Linked DNA regions of Homo sapiens: all the other regions are reported to be linked to region 2. The links are microRNA targets in miRTarBase. Many come from high-throughput screens and were not tested one by one. Region 2 holds a microRNA gene; each other region holds the end of a gene's coding sequence.

The links. Region 2 holds the annotated microRNA hsa-miR-3197 (GGAGGCGCAGGCUCGGAAAGGCG, at 993-1,015, opposite strand). A microRNA usually pairs through its seed, bases 2 to 8, with sites in the 3' UTR of a target mRNA and lowers its output. Matches are read on the target gene's strand: a 7mer-m8 pairs with bases 2 to 8, a 7mer-A1 pairs with bases 2 to 7 and ends in A, and an 8mer does both.
Region 1: the mRNA of A2ML1 is a reported target of hsa-miR-3197. Seed matches in the 3' UTR shown: 7mer-A1 at 2,278-2,284.
Region 3: the mRNA of CCDC127 is a reported target of hsa-miR-3197. The part of its 3' UTR that is shown has no 7-base or 8-base seed match.

The regions. Positions count from the first base shown.
Region 1 is chr12:8,874,310-8,877,541 of GRCh38, forward strand. It overlaps A2ML1 (alpha-2-macroglobulin like 1), which reads left to right. Exons shown (of 36, transcript NM_144670.6): 34 at 116-218; 35 at 662-703; 36 at 1,749-2,478. The coding sequence ends at 702. Among named protein-coding and RNA genes, the nearest start is that of PHC1, 39 kb to the right of the region's middle.
Region 2 is chr21:41,165,327-41,168,578 of GRCh38, reverse strand. It overlaps MIR3197 (microRNA 3197), which reads right to left and starts at 1,022; the gene lies at 950-1,022. BACE2 (beta-secretase 2) reads right to left here and starts at 419. Exons shown (of 9, transcript NM_012105.5): 1 at 4-419. The coding sequence starts at 315. RefSeq lists a silencer at 411-860.
Region 3 is chr5:202,685-205,929 of GRCh38, forward strand. CCDC127 (coiled-coil domain containing 127) reads right to left here. Exons shown (of 3, transcript NM_145265.3): 3 at 1-3,245. The coding sequence ends at 2,613. Among named protein-coding and RNA genes, the nearest start is that of LRRC14B, 13 kb to the left of the region's middle.

The sequences.
Region 1 (3,232 bases), not on the chromosome of region 2:
CTGGCGGGGCTTCAGAAAATCTACATGAAGACAGCAAGGGTCTTTTATTCCACATTGCATACAGTGTAATTTTCATTTTACTTCTAAGGTACTGTTTCATCTGTCTTCCCCACAGCTCATTAAGAACACTCAGACTTACACCTTCACCATCAGCCAAAGTGTGCTGGTCACCAACTTGAAACCAGCAACCATCAAGGTCTATGACTACTACCTACCAGGTGAGAGGGCTGAGCTGAAATGAGATCTGAGATCTTACCTGCATCTCCCAACTTACTTCTGCCTCATTCTTCATGGCTTCTCTCTTAATTTTACAAATACTCCTTCCCAAGCCAAGTAGCACATAATTAAATTATCTAATCTCCTAAAATATTTTAATTCAGTTGTGTGCCATTTTTAAGTTGCGTACACTAGAGACATTTTATGTGATCGGAGAACAATGTGAACCATTGTTCTCAAAGGGCTATTTCTATTATTTTTGGTATGATTAATAGTTTGTCACAATGTACAAATATTAGTGATTGAAACTTTCTTGTAATTCTGAATATGCTCATAACCTGTAGAGATTCTCTGGAAGGGGCTCAAGCAGTAGCTTTTCTGAAGCATTTTCCCTCTGAATATAGGAGGCCCTCAAAGTAATAATATGACTTATTTCATTTCACAGATGAACAGGCAACAATTCAGTATTCTGATCCCTGTGAATGAGGTAAGTCCAGCGGAGAAATGGGTGGAGTTATGGGTTAGGGTGGCAGAAGTTAAGAGGAGCCTCTTTTCGAGTTACTGTCATTGTCTTTTTTTGAGATAGAGTCTCGCGGTGTTGCCCAGGCTGGAGGGCAGTGGCGGAGGTTGAGTGGCTCACTTCCCAGCTTCAAGCGATTCTCCTGCCTCAGCCTCCTGAGTTGCTGGGATTATAGGCGCCCACCATGATGCCTGGCTAATTTTTGTATTTTTAGTAGAGACAGAGTTTCACCATGTTGACCAGGCTGGTCTCGAACTCCTGACTTCAGGTGATCTGCCCACCTCGGCCTCCCAAAGTGCTGAGATTACAAGCATGAGCCACCACACTCAGCCCTGTTATTGTCTTTTGGAAGCTATTGTTGATAGAAAGTGAGCTTTCCTTTTTTGTCTTAAACTTTTTTTTTTTTTTTAAACAGGATCTGGCTCTGTTGCCCAGGCTGCAGTGCAGTGGCGTGATCTCAGCTCACTGCAGCCTCTGCCTCCCAAGTTCAAGCGATTCTTGTGCCTCAGCCTCCTGAGTAGCTGGGATGACAGGCACGTGCCATCACGCCCAGCTAATTTTTTTTGTATTTTTAATAGAGATGGGGTTTCGCCATGTTGGTCAGGCTGGTCTCAAACTCCTGGCCTCAGGTGATCCGCCTACTTCAGCCTCCCAAAGTGCTGGGATTACAGGTGTAAGCCACTGTGCCCGGCCTGTCCTAAACTCTTGAAAATAGTTTACAGAAGAAAAAGCTAATGCTTGGTATTAAAACAATACTTTTTTCTATCAGATTGAAAATGGATTGATTTTTCCTGATATTTTTACATGATACATCTTTGTTATATGAAAATACTAAGACAAAAGTAAAGGTTACCTGATTCTACACCTGTGAGATAACACTATTAATAATCCAACTGTGCATTTGTGAGATTTTTTTGTATATATATAGAGAGGTCAAGTATCCTCTATGTATGTAATGAGCTTCTGAGTATCACAGTGTCTTCTATTTTTTGTTTGATTGTTCGCTTTTCAGGATAGGAGCTGGAAACTCAATTAGTCCTCTGTGACATTTACTGGAGGGTGGAACATTCTTCTGTCGCTTGAAGCAGAACTCATTCAATCAAATAATTTAATTTCTCTGACTAGTATATGGGTAACAAATGAATATGTCTGAACCTCAGCTATAATACTTTCTACTACCTTTGCAAGGAGATGGGATAGGAACAATCACTCAGAGGAGGCGTTGCATGGGCAGGGTCATAGGGGGAAGAAAGGTGGTTTAGCTGTTTTATTTAGCCATTCAGGGGGCTCTCCAGAGAGGAGACGGTGGTAGAGGGTGAACTAGAGAAGATAAGAATGTCTTCCTAGGCCGGATGCGGTGGCTCACGCCTGTAATCCCAGCACTTTGGGATTGCGAGGTGGGCGGATCACTTGAGGTCAGGAGTTCAAGACCAGCCTGGCCAACATGGTAAAACCCGTCTCTACTAACAATACAAAGATTAGCCTGGTGTGGTGGCACGGGCCTGTAATCGCAGCCCCTTGGAAGGCCAAGGCAGGAGAATCGCCTCAACACTGGAGGTGGAGGTTGCAGTGAGCTGAGATTGTGCCACTGCACTCCAGCCTGGGCAATGAGGCAAGACCCTGTCTCAAAAAATAATAAATAATAATAATAATAATGTTTTTCTAGAGTTTCAGTCTAAGGGAAAATGTGATTTAGGGCTTTGGAAATTGGCTAAAAAAATAAAAATGGAAAAGAAAATCTGTGCATTTAGTTCTATGCATATTTCTTTGGAAACCAAAAGTTCTTTTAAAGGTGATGATCATCCTTTCCCCCAAAACTCACAGTTTGGTTTCTTCCTTAAACCTTTTAACCCAGACTTCTCAAAGAATCATCTTAAAGATGTGAGGACAGGTTAGAATAGAGAATTTTAATTATGGGGCTCTGCTCAACCAGCCCGCTACTGCAGGGCAAACAGTGATGGATTACAAGAAAAGTGGCTGGCCAGAATGCCGTTTCCATCTCTCTCGGTTTCTCTTCTGCATGATTCTCCCAACCTCTCCCCACATGGGCTATCTATCACCTATCACCGTGCAAGCACTTCCTCAGAGGAATGCTTTTGTTTTGGAAACAGGTTTGGAGGCAAAGGGATAAGGGAAGTAAGATGAATGATATTTAACAGAAAAGATTCTCTAGGCAATTACACCCTTTTATCCTGGGTATCCACTGGATCCATTATGCTCCCCTTGATTGCAAATTCTGACTGAAAAGTCAGGGAAAATAAGTACATTCTACAAAAATAAAAAATGACAGATGGGACCTACTTAAACTAAAGAGCTTCTGCACAGCAAAAGAAACTATCAACAGAGTAAACAGACAGCCTAAAGAATAGGAGAAAATATTAACAAACTGCCTCCAGCAAAGAACTAATATCCAGAATCTATAAGGAACTTAAACAAATCAACAAGAAAAAAACAAATAATCCCATTAAAACGTGGGCAAGGGGCATGAGCAGACAC
Region 2 (3,252 bases):
TACCTTCTGCGGGGGGGTCCCGATCAGCATCTCCAGGTAGTAGCCGCGGCCAGAGTCCCCCTGCAGGTTGTCTACCATGGCCAAGAAGTTGGCGGCGCCCGCGGGGGACGCCAGGGCAGGCTCCAGGGCGAGCGCCAAGCCGTCGGCGTGGCGCTCGGCAGGGGTCCCGGGTCCCGGGGTGGGCGCAACTACGCGGTTCGTGGCCGCGGCCACCCGGAGGGGCAGCGTGAAGGGCGCGGGGGCCAGCTCCGGGGCGGCGCGCAGGAGCCACTGGGCCAGCAGAGGCAGCAGCAGCGCCCGGGCCAGTGCGCCCATGCCCACGGCGGGGCCCGGGGGGCGCGCCCAGCCTAGCCGGTCCCGTCCCGTCCGGCAGCCGCGGCTCAGCGACTCGGCCGGCGCGCGGGGCTGCGGGCAGGGATGGGCGCGCACCGGGACCGGCGGCGGCGGGGAGGACGGGAGGAGGGCCCAGGGGAGGAGGCTCGCGGGAGGGGAGGAGGCTCGCGGGAGGGGAGAAGGCGGAGGCCGGGGAGGCGGGCGCGGAGGCGCAGAGCCGCCCCAGCCCGCGCCGCCAAGTTGGGCAAGTTCTTCTCCGCTGCCCCCTCTGGCGGCCGCGACTGCCCCGCAGCGGCCCAGCCCCTCCCCCGCGGCCAAGGTCACAGCGGGGCTCGGGGGGCGCCGGGGTCCACCTGCGCCTGCCCTCCCCACCCTCGCCGGGCTCAGGCCGCGCCTCTTCCCCGGGAAACTCGAGTCCCGAATTTCCTCGGAAAGCGCCCCAGCGGCCACGGCCAACGGATGTGACGAGGCTCATCTGATACCGGGGGGAAAGTTTCGAGAACCCTTAAAGGGGCAGCGAGGGCCTGAACTAGGGCCCCGGCCCCGCGCGCTTGGGGGTCCGCGGGGGTCTATTCGCCCGGCAGTGGCGGGAGCTTCCGGGGGTGACTCGGAGGTCAGCGAGGAGAGCGGTGGATCGGGAAGGAGCCTGGAGCCTCGCGCGCCTTTCCGAGCCTGCGCCTCCCCTCGCCAAGCTCCTCCGCCTCATTTCAGTCGCCGGGTCTGGCTGCTTTCGAGGCGTTTCCCGTCCGCTGCCCCCGAGCCCCCGCCCTCAGTCCAGCCCGTTCCCCGGCCTCATCCCCCGGCGGCCCCTGGGTGGTTTTAAAGAGGTCTCAGTGGAGGCTGGGAGGGTGGAGGGTGGAAGGAGGCAGAGGAGGATGCGAGAGCTTTGGAGAATTTTCCCTAAAAATCGGGGGAGGTGGGGGGCGTGGCTGCTGCTGGCGCCTGGCCCCAGCCTCATTGCCCCCCCTTACTCCCTCTGTTGCCCACAGCTAGCTGCGAAGCTGGGCTTCACCCCAGCCACCTTCCCCCCACCCCCGCCCCCTTCGCCCCCTCCGCCGCGCCCCTGTCCCTAATGCAGGTCAGATGCTACTGGAACCCGCTGCCTCCCCTGGCACCCAGCCCTCAGGCCACCTAGTAAGTTGCTGTCAGGATCCCAAATCAGGGCCACGAGTCCACCCTGCTGTGATCCCTGCCCTTCTCCCCCACCTCCCCTTCTATCCCCAGCCAGCTCTCTGCGGACTGTCTAATTAATACTCGTTTAGCCATAGACGCCAAGACGCAGAAATGCGTTGAGTAATGCAAGCAACGAGGGTTATTTTATTTTAGATACTAAAGGCAGGGGGGACAATTAGACAAGCTAAAGTCCATCGATTTCTACAGAAACAAGGAATAGAAAATTCTTTGTACCTCCTCCAGCTGAATTATGTTGGCTGTTTTAAAAAACAAACAAGCCCATCTTCAAACAGTGGGGAGTTAGAAGCCAAGCTTCCCCGAATCACTGCAATTTTCAGCTACTTCTACTCAAGATTTGATTTTTATTCCTGTGTTCCCAATTTTAGAATCACGTCTAGCTCTGCAAGGGACCTTTATGTCAGAGATCTTCAAATGTATTGATTTTCAGATGACTTTAACCATAAATCACACTTCCCCCAAACTATATCTCAACTTTAACAAATCCCCAACTCCATGAAGAAAGGCATAGCTGGATCCCGTGATATAACTTAAGTTGATATTCTCCATAAATCTGCATAGTTATTCCAGAGCCCTTCTATTCATATATTCACGTTTCAGATTCAAGGTTGTGGAGGGAATGTGATTTTTTTTAAAATGATTATTTATACTCCTTGGTGTCCAGTCTTGAGGGGTTCAAAAAGACATTCAGACAGCTCTGGGAAGAATATAATCTTTCTGAAAAGCACATGAAATGTATTAGGGCCATTGATAAAGAGGCTATGTGACATATAAGTTTAATACTAGAGACATTTGCTCTGTCTAATAATTAAAAGCCACAAGGGAAATTTTTAAAAAATCAAGTCTAATTAAAGTTTGTACAAGAAACGCGTGACTCAGTCTAGGGTGAGTATTCCTAAGCTTTTCATTTTAAGAGGGATGGTTTGGGTTTGTGGGGAAAAGGATGCATAAAGATCCAGGGATGGAGGAGCACACAGGCTTCCATGGATGGCAGAGCTGTCTTGTCAGAAAATAATGCAAGCTGAAGGGACAGCATTGGGTGACTGTCTCCTTGGTTGTCTCTGTTTTCATGAATGGTCTTAGAGCATATGATCCCTATTCAAGCCTATGGTGCTGGGTGGATTTGGGAGACAATAATTTTACTTTCCAGGTGTTGGAACTGAAATGATAAGTGGCAGCCCTCTCATGGAATAGCATTGATTTTTAAACCATGGTGACCGATGCAGGGCAGAGAAAGGAGAAGGTGAGACCCACCCTCCTGACCTCACCCCTAACATCAGAGGACATGGGATACTGCCCTGCTCTTCCTCACTCCACCAGAGCCTCCAACTCCTTCCCTTCTCCTTACAGCCTCTCAGCACCCTCGTTTTCAGCCATGGCCTTCCTGAGTCCATTCAGGAAAACAAAAGCCCTGCAATTAGATGGGCCTTCTCTCCTTGGAAAGAACAAACATCACCATTAAACATGACCCTGGACGGTGGAGAGCGAGGAAGGATCTCACTCTCCAGCCCAAATGACTAATAGAAGATTCCTGGTAGGAACGTGTGGCGCTCAGCCAGAAAGAGTCACCATCCCATGTTCCACTGATGTTTGTTGTCTCTCACTGCCAGCTCCCAGTTCCTTTTACACCTGCGATTGTAACCGGGCCTATGTTAGATGAATCATAAGGTGTTTGTTTTCCTTTATCGTGGTCCTTGGCTTCCTCCAGGCATGCCTGTTTGCACATAG
Region 3 (3,245 bases), not on the chromosome of region 2:
AGCTAGGCTGACAGCACACTGGACATTAGAAACAGGATGAGGATTAACAATTTGCCTCGAAAATCATTCACCTACAAAGCAGCTGACTGTGTTTTCTTCATTTAAAGACAAACGTGGAGTGGTTCACACAGGGACACCCAGCAGACCGGATTGCCGCAGGAATGGAGCCTGCACCGCTCTTTAGGCAAGGGTCTTGATGCATCAGGAAGTACAAACAACAACAGGAAGAGTTTTGTCCAGATTTACCGAAAAAATGACTTTTTAGGGGCCGGGTGCCGTGGCCCACACCTGTAATCCCAGTGCTGTGGGAGGCCGAGGTGGGGGCGGTGGATCACCTGAGGTCAGCAGTTCGAGACCAGCCTGGCCAACATGGTGAAACCCCGTCTCTACTAACAAAACAAAAATTAGCTGGGTGTGGTAGCGCACGCCTGTAATCCCAGCTACCCAGGAGGCTGAGGCAGGAGAATCGCTTGAACCCAGGAGGCGGAGGCTGTAGTGAGCTGAGATCACACCACTGCACTCCTGCCTGGGTGACAGAGATTCCCTCTCAAAAAAAATAAAAAATGAAAATAAAAGTGACTTTTTCTCAGATAAAGCGATGGTGGTAGAGCAGAGAGGCACGCTAGCAGCCACTGAAGAAGAGAAGCATCTGAGCACCCTTAGCCATCACACCACTGCACTCCTGCCTGGGTGAAGCATCTGAGCACCCTTAGCAGGGCGTGGGTGCCGAGAGCAGAGCATGGCAGGGGGCCCGTGTCTGTTGCAGGCAGCGCATGTTGGCTCTGAGCCCGCCTCCGCCGCGCTCAAGGGGTTCCACGGATTTCAAACAACGCATGCGTGTAAAGCGTGTACAGCTCAGGGTGGAACATGCACTCCATGAATAGTGGCTCTCATACTGCCACGTGGGCTCTATGAGCTTAGGATTTTTAACAGTTGCTCCTACTCCCGTACAGACGGGCAGGAGGGGAGAACATGGCCCTTGAAAGCAGATGGACAACCTGCTCCCGCTCCTGCCTGGCCACACACTATCAAATCACTGCACACAGGTTACTCGCGGTTCTGGAGAAAAGGTGCCCGGGCTCAGACTGGCTCCAACACTACTACCTGCGTGACCTCAGGCAGGTTAGCTCTTCCACATCTCCGTAAAGTGAGGTGCGTGGTGACGAATTCACACAGCAGGCCCAAGGCTGTGTCCTACCAGGGCCTGTGTGCAAGGCTGGCCCTTGACTGACATCTGGGAACTCGGATTCTGGGAGACTTCCCAGCACCATTAACTCCTACGCGTGGCTCTGTGACCACAGTACTTGTGCTCACGGCACAGACCACACCAAACCCACCCTCCTTCTGGACAAGTGGGGAATTCCCACACAGGCCAGGCAGGGGGTACCACATGACCAGCCCTTAGCAAAAGCCCCAGGTGCTGAGTCTCCAGTGAGCTTATTCTTAATAGTTAGGTGTGTCCTGTATGACTCCAGGGAGTGGATCCTGGGGTGTCCACACGTGGCTCCTCTGAGCGCCACCCACACACCCTCTCCCTTTGCTGATTCTGCTCTGTGCTGAGTCCAACCCTGTGCTGAGTCCTGTGAGATCTCCCAGCAGGTCACGCACCTGGGGGCTGGCCTTGGGGCACCTCCGCAAAGCGTAATAGTAATACTCACTTCACAGGATTCGACTGAGGATTCCATGAGTGAACAGGTATACAGGCTCAATTCCCAGTAGCTATGTGTGACATGGGGTGATAAGTGCCTGTCTACCTTGTTGGCTGTGGTAAACAATGAGATAATACATATAAAAATATTTTGTAAAGAGTGAAGAATTACACAAAAAGTGGCATTATTACTCATAAATGGCAAGTATTTTGAGTATATATCATTGCTAATAAGTATCTGCTTGCTGAATACAGACACAAGCCAAATTCCAAACACACATTAGGTAACAACTGGATACAACACACACACATTAGGTAACAACTGCATACAACACACACACATTAGGTAACAACTGCATACAACAAACACACATTAGGTAACAACTGCATACAACAAACACACATTAAGTAACAACTGGATACAAGAAACACTTGGTATTTCCCCTTTATGGAGTGAGAGAGATCTTTAAAATATAAACCCTTGATAATATAATATTACTACTTCCTATTACCTGTTATGCAGTTCTACACATTATCTGACAAATTCTTAATGTAATCTGGTGACAGAGAAAAATAATTTGAGGAGAAAGTATTTAGGGAGTGATGAAACAGACAGAAAATTACTTGTGGTAAGGACCAGTATTGTATTTGACTTTTTAAAAAACCATTTTTACCCTGGAGCTAAAATACGAGGTTATACTGTTCTGCTTAATACAATACTGGCAGCCTAAAAATGCTTCAAGAAACCATATCCCCAACAGCGGCAGAGCATCGGGAGGAGACCCTCTGTCTCTGAGGCTTCGGTGCACTTCTGCTCAGACGGTGGCGGGAGTGGAGGTCGCTGCTGAAGGGTGACGGTGTGGCCATGACACGGGCAGCACGGGAACGGAAGACGCCGGAGACCCAGAAGGCGCATGACTGCCTGGCCTCGAGTCACTAAAAGCAGTTTGATTTCACTCTTGTCTTACTTTTCTAGTATGGCTTCCTCTACTCTCTTAAACTTCTTCAGTTCGACAACGAGTTCCCAGTATTTGAGATAGAGCCACATGAGTCTGCCATTCTGGCGTTTGTTGGTGTTCCAGACATCACCACAGTATGTATCATGCTGAAATATGTCGGTGAGACCGGCTGCCATCTCTAGGTCAGCGGCGACGGGGTCGACGGACGCTCGCACCAGTAAGCTCTTCTCTATCTCCAGCCGCTTGCTGCGAGGAAGAAACAGACTGCAGTAGATATTCTGTCTTTCTGTGAGAACAGCTTCAAATTCTTTCAGCAAAAGCCTGGCTCTCCTTTGCCAGTTTTCTTCCCTTTGCAGGCAGCTCAAATACGCACTTCTCAAAGGCTGCACCTGTCTTTTTTCTTGCATCACCTGGGCCCGTTCCTGTTCCAGAAGCTTCTTTTCTTCTACCAACTTGCGTCCCTGAGAGATAAGGGCTTCTCGGTAACTAGCAGTTCTGTTTTGTTCCTTTTCGAGTTCCAAGGACAACTGAGCGACAGCACGCCGATTTTCTGAGATCATGGCGTGGTACTTGGCTTCCAGATCCTGTTGAAAAGCAGCAGTTCTCCGACGGTAGGCTTCTCTCTCTTTTTCTACTTC